Linked DNA regions of Homo sapiens: all the other regions are linked to region 3. Evidence: fine-mapped expression QTL. A gene starts in region 3. Each other region holds a variant in brackets. All regions are shown on one strand. Distances are from middle to middle. Region 1 overlaps SDC3 (syndecan 3). Region 2 has its middle 63 kb from the start of PUM1. Region 3 holds the start of SDC3 (syndecan 3).

Evidence for each region. PIP is the estimated chance that this variant, and not a neighbour inherited with it, causes the effect.
Region 1: its variant is the best candidate, but not a certain one, in a credible set for the expression of SDC3 in tibial artery (GTEx, PIP 0.79).
Region 2: its variant is the best candidate, but not a certain one, in a credible set for the expression of SDC3 in whole blood (TOPMed, PIP 0.56).

The regions. Positions count from the first base shown.
Region 1 is chr1:30,869,724-30,875,229 of GRCh38, reverse strand. It overlaps SDC3 (syndecan 3), which reads left to right. Exons shown (of 5, transcript NM_014654.4): 4 at 642-933; 5 at 1,853-5,506. The coding sequence ends at 2,019. Among named protein-coding and RNA genes, the nearest start is that of SDC3, 36 kb to the left of the region's middle. RefSeq lists an enhancer at 3,823-4,694. The variant G/A (reference allele first, on the strand shown) is at 3,125.
Region 2 is chr1:31,126,018-31,131,523 of GRCh38, reverse strand. No RefSeq gene overlaps it. Among named protein-coding and RNA genes, the nearest start is that of PUM1, 63 kb to the right of the region's middle. The variant T/C (reference allele first, on the strand shown) is at 2,182.
Region 3 is chr1:30,906,454-30,911,959 of GRCh38, reverse strand. SDC3 (syndecan 3) reads left to right here and starts at 3,202. Exons shown (of 5, transcript NM_014654.4): 1 at 3,202-3,511. The coding sequence starts at 3,374. RefSeq lists a silencer at 3,158-3,247.

The DNA of each region.
Region 1 (5,506 bases), 37 kb after region 3:
AAGTAGCGACATCCCTGCTCTGATGGCTCCCACAGCCCCCACTTTGGTCTCATCATTCCCAGCTCTGATCCTGCCTCCGAGTGGTGGGAGCCCTAGAGATTGTCAGTCACTGAGCTGGTTTCCGGGACACCTGCCCCTGAGGCCATCATAGTCTGCAGGTTGTGCTCTTGGACTGGCCTCCAGGCTACAGAATGCTCCCCTGCCTTAGGCATGGACTGGGACCAGGCCCACATCCATAGCATCTGCACCCAGCAGTTCCCAAACAGCTTCTCGGCAGGAATCCCCCAAGGATTGTTACTAAGGCAGCTGGAGGGGACATGAGGGGGACAGGATGTCCAGAGCAAGAACAGAGGCAGTGTGTTAGTGGTTAGAAACACAGACTGTGGAGACAGATAGATCTGAATTTTAGTTCTGTCCCCCACTTACTAGCTGTGTGTCCTTGGGCAGGTCATTTATGCTCTGAGCTGACTTCCTGCTCTGTAAACTGGGGGCATTGTTACACTCCTTCATGGGGATAGTGTGTAGCACAGTGCCTGGCATGTAGGGAGTGCTAAGTGTTAGCCCCCCAGGGCAGTAGGATGGTGGTGGGGGGTTATGCATGCATGTGTGGTTGTCCTGGGCTCATGCCACCCTCTCTGCAGACCCCAACTCCAGAGACCTTCCTGACCACAATCCGGGATGAGCCAGAGGTTCCGGTGAGTGGGGGGCCCAGTGGAGACTTCGAGCTGCCAGAAGAAGAGACCACACAACCAGACACAGCCAATGAGGTGGTAGCTGTGGGAGGGGCTGCGGCCAAGGCATCATCTCCACCTGGGACACTGCCCAAGGGTGCCCGCCCGGGCCCTGGCCTCCTGGACAATGCCATCGACTCGGGCAGCTCAGCTGCTCAGCTGCCTCAGAAGAGTATCCTGGAGCGGAAGGAGGTGCTCGTAGGTGAGGCTTGGGGTCTGGGCCAAGGGGAGCCTGGGAGGATACCAGAGTGAGACAGCTGGCTGGGCCTCAGTTTGCCTCTAGGAACCCAGAAAGGAGATCAGGGCGTGGTTTCCTAGGAGCCAGATAGGAAGGAAACTTGAGAACTCAACCCCCCAGGACCTGCCTTCTGGCTCCTCCCAACTTTCCTCCTTCCCAATATCCAACCCTGACTTCATGTCCATCTCTAGGTCTTCCCTCAGTGTCCTCTGACCCCTCTGTGGACTCTGACTTTGATCCCTGCTTTCCTGGGCCACACTGGCTGACCCCCTGGGACCTTACTTCCTAGATGCTAATCTCTGACCCATCCTTCAGCTTGACCTTCCCCAGTTTTTGACCCCAGTCCCTGTGGACCTGCCCTGGCCGCATCTAGGGAGTCTGTGGACTCCTGGTTCAAATCCTGGCTTTGCACTCAAGGCAAGGTACTTCACCTCTCCAGTCTTCCTTCTCTTCATCGGTAGAATGGGGATAGTCATTTTGCCCTTAATCAATTCTAAGAGGCACATCTGTTCACATGTTAAGTCTTCTGTAGTTGGGGTATGTCATATTTAGTTAGCAGAGCTTTTTCTTTCCTAGCAGTTATAAAATACTGGGGCATCTTATGAGTGGTGGCATTTTAAATTTGATGAAGCCCTCAGATGACCCCTCCCTCATAGGGCTGGTGTGAGGGTTCAGTGAGTTAGTGTGTTGGGCGATTAGAATGCAGCCAGTGAAGGCCTATGATGGTACCCAGTGCTGGTAGTAGTAGTATTGACTCCATCATCACTCCAACTCAGATCTGGGACTCCCAGCCCTCTCCTCACCCTGGCCCCCACCCCTGAGGACCCTTTGCCCTGGTTCTACCCTGCCTCTGGGCCTTGACCTGTGCCCTCTTCTTCCACAGCTGTGATTGTGGGCGGGGTGGTGGGCGCCCTCTTTGCTGCCTTCTTGGTCACACTGCTCATCTATCGTATGAAGAAAAAGGATGAGGGCAGCTACACGCTGGAGGAACCCAAGCAGGCGAGCGTCACATACCAGAAGCCTGACAAGCAGGAGGAGTTCTATGCCTAGTGGAGCCACAGTGCCTCCCTGCAGCCTCAACACCACCCTGCTGTCCAGTCCCCAGCCTGGCCCCACCAGCCCAAGCCTGGGACTGGGCCTGGAACCTGGCCCCAGTTCTTCTCTGCCCTCTCTCCCAAGGTCTGCCCAGGCTGCCAGCCTCACACAGATCTTCCCCGAGGAAGAGGGGCTGCTGCCATCTGCCCCAGACTGTGCCCTTACGAGCTCATCTCTTGTTCCCCTCATCCCTGCCACCAGTCTGGGGCTTCAGGACCTCATGTCAGATGGATGGGAGGAAGAAAGCTCCTGATTGGCTGGTGGTGGAAGAAAGGGTGGGGCTTGAGATGAGCCTGAGCCCTGACTTGGCACCCACAGTGCTCACTGAGATCTCCTTTTTGGGGCAGAGAGGCACTCAGGCTGGTTTCCAGGACAAACATTTGGTAAACACAGCCCTTGAAATCATCTAGACACTGCAACCTCTTGCTCGTATCCCAGGGCCTCTCTCTAGCTGGGTGAGAGGGTGTCCCTTGTCACCAGCCTGTTTTGTCCTGGTCTCTCTGGGGTTGTTGAATCTCTCCTCTTGCCTGCCAAGTACACATGTACCCAGACTTCATTTCTTTCTGCATCTTCCCCCAAGAAACAGCTTCCTGAGGGTGCTGGGGCAGCCACTGGTGAGGAGGGGCTGCTCTGATGTCCCTCCTATGAGGGGACTCTGCACAGACACCATTGCCCACACTATCACCATATTTTCACTCAGTCACACACAAGACAAAAGCATGCAATGACAAAACCATACGCAATCCTGACCGCCCAGCCAATCAAGACATATCACAGAACACACGCGTCCTTCCAAGAATGTTTATCCTCATGCATCACTTACACACCCCCAGACACGTACTGCAATGCAAGTCACTAGTCATGGTCACATGACAGTGACAGTGTGGCCTCCTCCTACCCCAAATACACCCACACTCTGGCACCACACACATTGTCTCCAGCTTTCAGGCTTACTGGGGAGGGTGGAATCGAGCCAGAACAATCAGCCCATATTGGGTCCCCCTAAGTTGCCCCGTCATACTCAGTCCCATGCCATGGTGCCCACACCAACCATGCAGCC[G/A]CCAACCCCAGCCAGTGTCAGACACAATCCCATGTGGATGCACAGTCTCACTCCACATGACCTGCTCTCAATGCTGGAGGGAAACAGGCAGGCCCTTGCCTTTCTCGGAAAAAGTGTGGGGCCACAGCCCTTTTAGGGCATTGCATGCAGGTGGGCCTGGCTTCACCCCTACCTGCTTCCTCCCCACCGCAGCTGGCAGAGGGGGAGGTTTGGGGCCAGACCCCCACTAGCTGGGAGCCTGGGGGCTCCTCTAAGGCTGAGGAAGGAAATTTGGCCCCAGGTTGTTGGGGGGTCTTGGGTCTCCCAGGACGGAAGGCCCAGGGCAGGGAGGGGGCATGTGGTTGGGCTCCTTTATCTCCCTGTGTCCCCTTCCTGCTTTGAGCTAGGGGGCTGACTCTGCCTCCCAGGACACAAGTCTCCAAAGTGCCTGTGAGGGCGGGCCCTCCGCACCCTCTGCCCTCTGCCTGGCAGGCCAACCTCAGCCCACCTGCCCAGAGGCCCTCCCTGTGGACACCCCCTCACCTATTTGGCCAAACAATTCTGGCTGCAGCTTCAGGGGCCATGGCTGGAAGCAGCCCCTGCAGATCCCTCAGGCCCCGAGGTCAGGGTTTGAGGGATGAGACCAGGTGATAGTGGGGGAGGGGTTACTTCCTTTGTTACCTAGCAAGTAGGGCTATTTCCATCGGTATTTTAAATGTGGGGTCACAGATCTTTTGGGGAGGGTGTGCTTGGCAGGGGGCCTCTTGGAGCCAAAGGGATGTGGTGTGAGTTGCGATTGGCTGGCACTCACACCCCCACCCCTCACCCACATCCCAGATTCAAGTCAGGAAGGCAGGTTTTATTTCAGGGCCCTTTTCAAGATGCCCTGGCAGCAGATTTCTGCAGGATGAGGGGTAGCGGTGTGTAGGCAGTGAGGGGGAGGTTCCAGGGGCTGTCCCACAGCCTGTCTTTTCCAGGCTGGGCTCCATCTTCCAGTCCCAAAACCCTCCTTCACAGGGCCCAGAGGCTTGTGAGGAAGCCAGGTGGACCCAGCCTTAGAAGAGTGGGCATGGGGGGCCCCTGATATCTGGAGGGGGCGGGTTGGCCTCAGTCATCTTTGGAGCAGAAGGGCTGGGTCCTGGGGCCACAGACCACAAGGCTCAGCCTCCCTACCCTGCTCCCTGGGGTGCTGCTGTCTTGGAGAGCACAGCTCTGGTGAGACGGCCTGGGCAGGCCGAGGCTGAGAAACCAGGGAGGATAGAGGAGAAAAGGGCTTGGGCCCCCAGCCCCAGAAGATGCTGGACCCCAGGTGGGAGACCCAACAGTGGGTGCAGTTTCTCAGTAGGGCTGGAGCCAATGGTGGGGGTGGCCCCGGCAGGCCTGGCTCCTCACATCCCAGGGGTTGGCTTCTGATTTGGGGCTTGGGCTCCAGGCACTGGCTTCTCTTCTCTGTGTCCTTAGCATTTGAGAGAAGAGGCCAGGGGCCTTGTTCATGGATCCCTGGACCCAAGGCAGATGTCCAGGCTTTATCCTCCTGAGGATGAGGAGTCTGACCAGCCCAAATCTGCCCTGGCCGGCCTGACCGGGGCAAGGCAGTCCAAGAGAGTTCAGTGAGGACCAGCTAGGCTCTCCCAGGTGCAATGTGGGTGCAGGGCCCTCATGTCCCCCTACCCCTGCCTGTGATGGAGTGTTCTGAGGGGCTTTGGCATTTGCTGGAAGCACAGGGAGTTCCAAATGAGAGGGAGCTTCTGTGGCTTGAGAGCCTCTGGGGCCTTGGCTGCCAGAGCACGAGGCAGGCCAGGACCTGGAGAGCCCAGACCCTGTCTCCAGGAGGCCAGGAGGCCAGATGGGGGCCTTGCCTGAAAGACTGGTCCCCTTGATCGCTGGAGGCATGTGGGTGGCAACCAGGGCTGGGCAGGGCTTAGGGTGTGTGGGCCAAACCCCCCTGGGGTTGGCAAAGCCGCCTGTCAGGCCTCCTGGTGGGGGCCCCTGGACACAGGGAGCAGACCCTCTGCCTCATGGGGTAGGAGTGGCTGCCTCCTGTGTTCTCTGGATTTCTTCTCCCAACAACTACAACCCTGGACTTGCCTCCCCAGGCCTCTTGCCTGTAAATAGAAGCCCGCAAACTGTACAGATTTACAGAGGCATCGAGACTGGGCCCTGGGAGTTGCCATCTGAGAGCCGATGGCCCCAGCATCCCCCAGGTGCCTGCCTGGCACCACAGTGACCCTGGCCTCAGCGTGGCAAATGCATGTAAATATTTTTCGTAGGCAGCGTGGCTCCAGAGAGCCCCCTGAAGACAGTGTCCCTCCCTCCTGTGAGTCCTTTCTCCTGTACAGAACCTGCCTGGGGTGGGTGGGGGTCTGCCATTCCCTCCCCCAGGCCTTCCCTGCCCCTTCTCTC
Region 2 (5,506 bases), 220 kb before region 3:
TTTTTAAAAAATTTACAGGCCGGGCGCGGCGGCTCACGCCTGTAATTTCAGCACTTTGGGAGGCTGAGGTGGCTGGATTACCTGAGGTTAGGAGTTTGAGACCAGCCTGTCCAACGTGGTGAAACCCCATCTCTACTAAAAATACAAAAATTAGCCAGGCATGGTGGCGTGTGCCTATAGTCACAGCTACTCGGGAGGCTGAGGTGGGAGAATTGCTTGAACCTGGGAGGCAGAGGTTGCAGTGAGCCGAGAAAGCGCCACTGCACTGCAGCCTGGGCGACAGAGTGAGACTCTGTCTCAAAAAAAATTTTTTTTTTAATTGGGCCGGGCATAGTGGCTGGGTTCAAGCAATTCTCTGAGTTCAAGTTCTCTGGGGTCAAAGAAGTTTGTTCTTTGTTTTGCATGTAGAGATGCTTTTAAAAAGCTAAAAAACGCCGGGCACGGTGGCTCACATCTGTAATCTAAGCACTTTGGGAGGCCGAGGCAGGCAGATCACCTGAGGTCAGGAGTTTGACACCAGCCTGGCCAACATGGTGAAACCTGTCTCTATTAAAAATACGAAATTATCTGGGCGTGGTGGCAGGCACCTGTGATCCCAGCTACTCGGGAGGCTGAGGCAGGAGAATTGCTTGAACCCAGGAGGCGGAGGTTGCAGTGAGCCGAGATTGTGCCACTGCACTCCAGCCTGTCAAAAAAAAAAAAAAAAAAAACTAAAACAGTTTTCTGTGTAAAATCATGTTTGACACACATATAAAACAGGTATTGAAATAAAAATGACAATAGCAATGAAAATTAGAAGAGTTGGAGTTATGTTACAGGAAGATCACAGAAAATAATGCAAAACAACATCGACAGAAAATAGGGCCAGGTATAGTGGCTCACACGTGTAATCCCAGCACTTTAGGAGGCCAAGATAGACTGATTGTTTGAGTCCCTAAGTTCAAGACCAGCTTCGCAGCATGGTGAAACTCTGTCTCTACAAAAAGTACAAAAATTAGCTGGGCATGGTGGCATGTGTCTATAGTTCCAGCTACTTGGGAGGCTGAGGCAGGAGAATCGCTTGAACCTGGGAGGTGGTGGTTGCAGTGAGCAGAGATCATGGCACTGTGCTCCAGCCTGGGTGACAAAACGAGACCATGTCTCAATAAATAAATAAATAAATAAAATAGGGCAGAAATGAGAAAATCAGAGGGCCTGTCTAGGAAGTGTAATATTTCAGTTTCAAGAGTTCCAGAAAAAGCAGAGGAAACAGAGGGAAGGAAATCCTCAAAGAAAACTCAAGAAGTTTAAAGAACATTGGTTTCCATAGGATCTACTAAGTTCCTAGAAAATTGGATGAAAATCGGTTCATGCCAAGGTAACCTGGCAAAAATTTCAGAACAAAGAGACAAAAAGAAGATGTTACAAGATTACAGAGAGAAAAACAAGTTTTCCAATCCTGTGTACAGAAGAAAATATGCTGATGTAAACTGCACAAGCATGCACACACAGAATCTGGCCATTGATGTTAAATCTTTGTAAACAAAAGACACCCATTCTGTTACTAGACAAAAAACAGTATGGGCAAGAATTTTTTTTTTTTTTTTTTTTTTTTTTTTGGATGTAAGTGAAGTTACAGTGAATTCTATTGTTTTATCTGCCCAGAAACTACACCTCACTCTTCTGGGGAATGTTCCTATCCTCCTTTCCCCGACATACACCATGTGTTCCAAATGGGTGCCCCCAAGTCTTACAGGCCCCACCTCCCTGGCCATGTTACGTCAAAGTGTATTTAACCCCAAGATTGCTTAAACCTGGAGCTAGAGAGAATGACTCTGACTTCCAGTTCAGTGGTGAAGATGGGAGACTCTATGGCCACTGGCCACCATGACTCCAGCGTAGGTTTGGAACAATAGAGTTCAGGTGGAAAGAAGCAGAGATGAGAGACTGGGCAGCGTCTGAGACCCTGGATCTAGCCATCCCTGAACCCTTGCAACCTGGACCCTTGCACTTTCCATGGTGATGCCAGTCTTCCAAAAGAAAACAAAATAAAAACCATTTGTCTGATCTGGGTTTCTGTCACTTGAAACAAGTCATGGCTGATACAGAAATGTGAGAAGGCAACTACTCTTGCTTGTATCAAAACTAATTATAACGAACATACTGAGAATTAGGATGCACCAGGCGCTGTCTGAGCACTTT[T/C]GTCTCATGTACTCTGAACTGAAAAGAAACTGAGGAGGCTGGGCGCGGTGGCTCACGCCTGTAATCCCAGCAGTTTGGGAGGCCGAGGCGGGTGGATCACGAGGTCAGGAGTTCTCGACCAGCCTGGCCAACATAGTGAAATCCCGTGTCTACTAAAATTACAAAAATTAGCCGGGCATGGTGGCACATGCTTGTAGTCCCAGCTACTGGGGAGGCTGAGGTAGGAGAATAGCTTGAACCTGGGAGGCGGAGGTTGTGGTGAGCCGAGATTGTGCCACTGCACTCCAGCCGGGGCAACAGAGCGAGACTCCATCTCAAAAAAAAAAAAAAAAGAAAAGAAACAGGACAGAGCAGGTGGGTCACTCATTCATAGTCTGGGGTTTAAGCTCAAGTACATAAAAGACCATCAGAGACCTCCCCTCACTGGGACACTCGCCTCCTGCTCACATCTACTTCACCTACTCCCCCCAGGCCACATCCAGCCCTGCCACTTTGCTCATGAGTTATCTTCTGTGAGACGGTCCTTTCTTCCAGCTCCGGCAAAATCCTATTTGCCCTTCAAGGCCCACTCAAATGTCTCCTGCCCTGCTCCTCTCTAGGCCCCTCATCCACAAATGCAAGTTAAAACCTCGTCTCCTCTGTGTCCTCACTGCATTTGCAAAATATGAAATTGAGAGCGGGCTGGGTGCGGTGGTTCACGCCTGTAATCCCAGAATTTTGGGAGGCTGAGGCAGGCAAATCACCTGAGGTCAGGAGTTTGAGACCAGCCTGGCCAACATGGCAAAACCCCATCTCTACCATAAATACAAAAATTAGCCAGGTGTGCTAATCCCAGCTACTTGGGAGGCTGAGGCAGGAGAATCGCTTGTACTCAGGAGACAGGTTTCAGTGAGCTGAGATCACGCCACTGTACTCCAGCCTGGGAGACAGAGCAAGACTCCCTCTCAAAAATTAATTAATTAATTAAGAGCACAGCTCTGATTTATTTATTTATTTATTTATTTATTTATTTATTTATTTATTTGAAACAGGGTCTCACTCTGTCACCCAGGCTGGAGTGCAGTGGTGTGATCACAGCTCACTGCAGCCTCGATTTCCCGGACTCAAGAGATCCTCTCACCTCAGCCTTCTGAGAAGCTGGGACCACAAGCATGTACCACCATGCCAGGCTGATTTTTGTATTTTTGGTATAAACTGGGTTTCACCATGTTGCCCAGGCTGGTTTCCAACTTCTGGGGTATATCATCCACCTACTTTGGCCTCCCAAAGAGCTGGGATTATAGGCATGAGCCATCACACCTGGCCACCTTACTTTTTCTAAGCCTCAGATTCTCTTTTTTTTTTTGGCACAGGGGATGGAGTTTCACTCTTGTCACCCAGGCTGGAGTGCAATGGTACAATCTTGGCTCACTGCAACCTCTGCCTCCCAGGTTCAAGCAATTCTCCTGTCTCAGCCTCCCAAGTAGCTGGGACTACAGGCATGTGCCACCATGCCTGGCTAATTTTTGTATTTTTAAAAGAGACGGGTTTTCACCATGTTGGCCAGGCCGGTCTCAAACTCCTGACCTCAAGTGATCTGCCTGCCTTGGCCTCCCAAAGTGCGCCCAGCCTCAGATTCTTTATAATGTGGAAATAATGATAGCCCAGCCTTGTAGGATTGCCATGAAGTTTAGATCAGCTACTGTTTGTTAGGCACATAGCGTATCATCAACACGGGCTGGTGGTGCCAGCAATTGATATCTCCGTCTATATTGGGAGTTTTCCCAGTATATTTTTCTGGGGCTTTGTCTCCTCCCCTAGGCTCTGGCTCTTTGAGGGCAGATACCCTATGTGATGATTCAAGTGGCTGCTCGCTTAAGACGTCTCCCCCTGGCTTCCAAGTGATTAGCTTTCCAGTTAGGAATTCAACATTTGAGTCTGGTTAGGTTATTTTAAAAATAGTTCCTGACTGCATGTGAGACGCACCGATCCAGTCTCCTTATAAAAAATGTATGCATTACAGCTAAGGCAAAGATCTCCTATGAGCATCAAACCAATCCCAACCCTTTTAGAGGCTACCACAGCTATCAGTTTGATGTGTTTGATGACTTATTTTTATTGAAGCTACTCAGTATTTAGGTACTTTTAATCTGAAGGCTCATGTCTTTCTTCTATTCTGGAAAAATCCTCAGATCTTATTTCTTAAAGTATTTGCCATCCACCCCATTCTCAACTCCTGGACTGTATGTTAGATGCTCTCAGAATGGCCTCCCTATTTCTTATTTTCTCCCTCTTTTCCTTTTCCTTCCCTTTTCCTTCTGGGTCAATTTCTTAGTACTACATTTTTTCCTGCAATTTTACTATTATCATTATTATTATTATTTTGAGATGGAGTTCCACTCTTGTCATCCAGGCTGGAGTGCAATGGCACGATCTCGGCTTACTGCAACCTCTGTCTCCCAGGTTCAAGCGATTCTCCTGCCTCAGCCCCCTGAGTAGCTGGGATTACAGGCACCTGCCACCATGCTGGCTAATTTTTATATTTTTAGTGGAGATGGGGTTTCACCATATTGGCCAGGCTAGTCTCAAACTCCTGACCTCACATGATCTGCCCGCCTTGGCCTCCCAAAGTGCTGGGATTACAGGTGTGAGCCACCGTGCCTGGCCACAATTTAATTATATTATAATAAAGCAATAAAGAATGTTTCAGAGCCTAGTGATGGATCATTTAGTCTAACATCTCATAACAACTTTGAAAAGCACAAGATATCAAATTTTTTTGTTTTGTTTTGTTTTGTTTTTGAGACAAAGTTTCACTCTTGTTGTCTAGGCTGGAGTGCAGTGGCACGATCTTGGCTCACTGCAACCTCCGCCTCCTCGGTTCAAGTGATTCTCCTGCCTCAGCCCCCCAAGTAGCTGGGATTACAGGCATGCGCCACCATGCCTGGCTAATTTTGTATTTTCTGTAGAGATGAGATTTCACCATGTTGGCCAGGCTGGTCTCGAACTCCTGACCTCAGGTAATCCACCTGCCTCAGCCTCCCAAAGTGCTAGGATTACAGGCGTGAGCCACTGCACCCGGCTGATATCAATGTTAAAATTGTGGCATATAGAAAGTTTAATAAAGAAGGAAATGTGGAGAGTAAAATGTAGTTGTAATCCTATTAAAGGCCTTGTCCATTTTCTTTTTTCGTCTGCCAAGAACAAGCAGAGAGTCTTGTCCGTGATGAAAGACTGACAGTGTATTAAAATGTTTAAAGTATTAGGAGGTGGAACACACTTTCAAAGGCAGTTAATAACATTCGCCATATGAACAGTCATTTGATTTAGCACAATAATCTCAGCG
Region 3 (5,506 bases):
TGAAAGCAGGGTGGGGAGTGCAGGATGAGTGTGATCAGGATGCCGGCAGGACAGGACCAGGCCTGATCACCCAGAGGACATCAGGAAGACTTCCCAGAGGAGGCAGTGTGTATTCTAAAGGCCGGAGGGGGCTGTGACTATTGTGCCAGGAGGCGGCAGCAGCTGGTGCCTGTGGGTGAGGTTATGGTGCTATGAAGGGAGACCCTGAGTATGTGGGGATGTGGCTCCAATGCACAAGGAGGCCTGGGCAAGGGTGACTGTGCAGATGACCCATGTGCTTGAGGGCAGGAAATGTGTGCATCTGTGAACCCCAGGGAGACCTGGGACCCGGGGGGAGCAAGATGAGAAGGACCTTCAGGGGCCCAGACCTGTCTTAGTTCTGGCTGTGACCAGTGTCTTTGAAGAGCAGCAGGTGGCGCTCCTGGCCTGTCCAGACCAAAGATTCTCCACTGCCCCGCCCCCACCTCTTCCCCAGGATGTCAGGGAAGTGGAGTTGCTGCTTCCAGAAGTCTCAGAGCTGGCAGGAACCTCTGAAGATGGGCCATGCTCACTGCCCATCTTACTCATGGAAACCATCCTAATGGTCTCCCTGCTAGATAGTTCTCCGAGCCTTGAATACCTCTCAAGACAGGATACTTACTGCCTCTTAGAATTGCCACTGCTGTCTGTGGCCAGCTGACATCTGGCTCCTCATAATCCCCACCCTAACCCTGCTGGCCCTTTGGGAGCGCCTCAGGGTTGGTATGTTCCTGGGATCTGCTCAGCATCTCTGAAGGATGATGTTATCCCTACATCTGAGTCCCTTCCTTTGTAAGCTTCATTCCCAGCCACCTTCATTGAACTCCATTACGATGGCAGGGAAGAGCTCATGTAATCCTCACAACCTGGTACCTGGCCTGGCACACAGCAGGCACCCAATTTATGCTTGCTAAATGAATGAATGAATGAACTCTGCGTGGTCATTATCTCTATATTACAGTTGGGAAATTGAGGCTCAGAGAGGTTAAGTCACACATCCAACACAATACAGCTCATAACTGGCAGAACTGGGATTTGAACCCAGATACTTGGCCGACCCAGAGCCAGAGCTCTTCAATTCCAAGCTGTGCTACCTCAACAGAAACCAGTTTCCCACCTATTGCACCCCATCAGCCTCCCTGCCCATCTCCCCAAGGTGCCAGTCAAATTTGGATCGAGCATTGATGTCATGCCAAAAGATTTGAGAATTGAATTTTCAGAGGCTGGGACCTCAGAATTCCTAGTTCGAAAGTCTCCCTGTCTTCCCTGTCCAGGATCCCTGTCAAAGGGTGGTGAGCTTGCCTTTCATACCCTTTAGGGACTGGGCTCTCCCTCCCTCCTGGGGAGCCCCTTCTAATTTATCTCTACTTTATGTTGAGTTGACCTTTGTCCCCTGGTCCTCCTCCCAAGGGCCCTGCAGGACAAGTACAGTTACCCCCAACACCAAAAACCCATGGCTGGTCCCCCAGAGTCTCTTCCTCAAGGCCTGCCCCTCCATTCATCCTGGTTTTGGTTCCCCTTTCCTTGAGGGAATTGTTCCAGTTTCAACTCAATTTCGTTCCCCTATTTTCTTTTCTTTTCTTTTTTTTTTTTTTTTTGTTTTTGAGAAGGAGTCTCGCTCTGTCGCCCAGGCTGGAGTGCAGTGGCGCGATCTCGGCTCACTGCAAGCTCCGCCTCCCGGGTTCATGCCATTCTCCTGCCTCACCCTCCTGGTAGCTGGGACTACAGGCGCCCGCCACCACGCCCGGCTAATTTTTTTGTATTGTTAGTAGAGACGGGGTTTCACCATGTTGGCCAGGATCTCCTGACCTCGTGATCCACCCGCCTCGGCCTCCCAACGTGGTGGGATTACAGGCGTGAGCCACCACGACCGGCCTGATTTCATTCCTATTTTCTAATGGCAGGCTCTAAGCTGGGTGCTGGGACACAGGGGCCAGAGAGGAGAGTAACTGAGGGTAGAGACGTCCAGCCAGCTGTCATCAGCAAATAACCTCTTCTTGCTGGCTCTCAGCTTCCCCACCTAAGAAGTGAAGATATTGACAGACCGACCTTATGGGGTTCCTGAGAAATGATATAACACATGAAAGCGCTGGGCACCTGGCATGTGGTCAGGGTTCCAGAAATGTTTCACTCTCCCCTATCTTGCCCCAAAACACTTGGTTTTGAGCCCCAGTAAATGGGAAACACATTCATTGATTCAGCAAATTTGGATTGAGCATCGATGTCATGCCGAGCTCTGTGCTGGTGCTGGGGACATAGCAGTGAACAAGACAGACACAAAACCCTGCCCCCGCTGGAGCTAACACGCCATTGGAGACTTGGAGAAGTAAGAACAGCATGGGGTATGCCGCTGGGGATGAAGGTGAAGGGGGAAAAGGCACCGTGACCACACAGGGTAGAAAGACCACCAGCGCTAGAGACTGCCACTCAGAGATGTACTTTTCTCGCCATCCTGCACTGGAGGGGGTGGTCCCATTCAACCATGGGGGGTCTGAGTCTCAGAGAACTGGGGGCCTTGCTGGAGGCGCACAGCTGGTGTGGAAGCAGCTGCGCTCAGGTCTGCGTGGCTTTTCCTCTGCAGATCCACAGTGACAGGGCCCAGAAGTGACCACCCCCATGGTCCCCTGGGGAGACCGAGGCCCAGAGAGGGCCGGGCCCTGATCTGAGGTCACACAGCCCCTGGGTGTCCTGGAGGCATGAAAGCCCGTGGTCTTGGATGACCTCTGGCCCACTGGGTGGACTGGCTGAGTGTGTGAGGGTGACGATGGGAGTCCAGGAAGAGACACGTGCGTGGAGCCACAGGGGGAGGCTGTAGATGAAAACGCCCATGCGACCCCTCCGCTCGGCGACTTCAGGGAGCCAGGCCCGGGCCCTGGTATCCCACGCGGGACCCTTCCCTTCTACCTAGCACGGCGGCCGCGGAGGTGCGTCCGGCGGGCTCCGCGACCTCCAGCCCCGGGATCGGCGAGGCCGGCTGCTCACTCAGGTGTCCGGGTGCCCACTCGGCAGCGCGGGGCTCCCTCTGGGTGGGGGCGGGGGCTGGGACTGGGGTCAGAGGGCGCGGAGCCCCGCGGGGGGCGCACTGGGGCCCGCCCCGCCCCGGGCCCCTCCTCCGTTCCGCCCGCGCTGGGGGCGGCCCGGCGGCGGCGGCGGCGGCGCACGCTTCCTGCGGGCGCGGCCGCTGTGGGCGCGGAGCTGCGAGGCGGAGCCGGGCGGCCGAGCCGGGAGCCCGCGAGCCTAGAGCGCGTCGGTCCAGCCGCCGGGCCGCGCCGCCGCCAAGCAGCCGCCCCGCGCGCCGCGCCTCGGGAACAAAGGCGCCCGCCCGCCGCCCGCCGCCCGCGCCCGCGCCGCCGCCATGAAGCCGGGGCCGCCGCACCGTGCCGGGGCCGCCCACGGGGCCGGCGCCGGGGCCGGGGCCGCGGCCGGGCCCGGGGCCCGCGGGCTGCTCCTGCCACCGCTGCTGCTGCTGCTGCTGGCGGGGCGCGCCGCGGGGGTGAGTGACACGCGCCCGGATCCCCGCCACGGCTCCCCGGGGCCGCCCCCCGCGCGGGGTGCCGGTCCCCGCCCGCGACCCCCCCTCCGGGACCCCGCTCCCTCCCCCCCGGCTGCTTCCCCCGGGGCCGCGGTCCCTGCCACCCCTCGACCCTCCCCCGAGCGCCCCTTTCTGCACCCTGCTCCCCCCCCTCCGGAATCTCCCCCTAGCTGGCATCCGCGGGGAGAGGCCGCCCCCGCCGCTGGTCATCTTCGGGGGGCGCATCTCTCCTTCCTTTTGGGACCCCTCCCCAGAGGGAATCCCGGGAGGGAACCCGATCGCGGGTCCTCAGCCCTGTTCCCCCACCTCCCAGTGGCTCCGGGAACTGTCTCCCCGGGGACGAAGCGGGACCCCTGCGCTGGCCTGGGAGGCGCGAGAAGGACCCGGCGGCGGGCTGGGGGTCGCCGTCCCGGCTGGGTGTGTCTTGGGGTGGGAGTGAGCCTGGCTTTTGCCTCGTGGGTGTGCCCAGACCATGGCCACTTTTTGGGAATCGGATCGGTTCCCCTTCCGAGGGGAGGGTGTGCATTTGGTTCTTCCCAGGGTCGCGGCAGCCGGCCAGGGCAGTGGGCCCGGGAAGGGGAGGTGGAGGTGGAGGGTGACTTGGTGAAGGTGACCTGAGGGGGGAGTGAGGGTAACCCTGTGTGTGGGCGTGTGTGGGCGTGTGTGGCCAACTCAGTGAGGGGTGCGGGGACCTGTGGGGCGTGTGCAGGTGAAGGATGTGTCTGCCACATGGGTGGATGCCAGCGTGCCCTCCCGTCCGTGGTCGTGGGAGGGTGACCCATTGTGCATGATGTGTGCCTGTGCCTGGCTGGGCCACTGTTGGCTATGGCCGTGTGTGGCTGCAGTGGGTGAGGGTGTGTGTGTGAAAGACCTCTGGTGGGCGTGTGCTTGGACCCATGAATGTGTGTGAGTGCACATAGCAGCGTGTGCATGCAGGTGCATGGGGGACCCTGGACATAGGACGAGGACCCCTGAGGGGAACCAAGCATGTGCAGGTGGAGGTGATGGTATGTATGAGGTGACCCTTGAGTGTCCCTTTGAGTGACCGTAGCAGCCATGCTTGGTCCCAGCTCCGTCAGGGATGGCAGAGAAAGGAAGGACCTCATCCCCCTTTGAGGGATCCAGGCCCCAGATGAGTTCTTGTTGGACAAGTGTCCAGGTTCTGGCTCAGGCGGGCTGGGGATTTCTAGGTCCAGCCTCCCAGGTTGGTTCCAGGAGCTATGCTGTCCTGCATCCCCCAGGCTGAAAAGGACCCAGGCCTCTCAAGCAACACTGGGTGCCCAGCCGCCCTCTGCAAGTTCCTTCCCTTTCCCAGCCTCAGTGGGCCAGTCAGTAAGACAGGAGGAGGACAGGCAGGGGCTCCAAGCTTGCTTCTTGGATGGACAGGCCCCTCCTCAGCCTTCCCCATCTAGGGGGCTGTCAGCTGGAGGGAGGGGAAGTGTTGAGGGCTGACCTGTGTGAAGTGCCTGCTGGCCAGGATGTCTCATTCCCAGCTCTCCCCTAAGTGGGGTGAGAGGAAGAGGTCCCTGGGAGGGATAGAGACCCAGCACACCCTAGCAGCTGGGGTCGCCTTCTCAGCCAAATTTCTGAAAGACCATCCTTAAAATCAAAGGCTTGGGAATCACACAACCCTGGGTTCCAATCCTGCTACCCCCGCCGATTCGTGGCATGGTTTGGGCAGGTCCTCTTACTTCTCTGACCCTTGGTTGTCCCTCTGTGAAATGGGGCTAATGACCCCTTCCTCAGAGGGCAAAAATTCAATGGGATGACTGACGAGTGTCCTGAGAAGGAGCTCAGGAGTCATGTGGTGTGCACATGAATGAAAGGGGCTCAGGACAGAAAGCTTTAGACTTGGAGGCCAGGTGGAGCGCTGGGCAGGCCACTTTCCTTGCTGAATAAGGCTAATAATTCATACTCCACGAGGTGGTGGAAGGACTTAGTGAGAGCATTTAATAG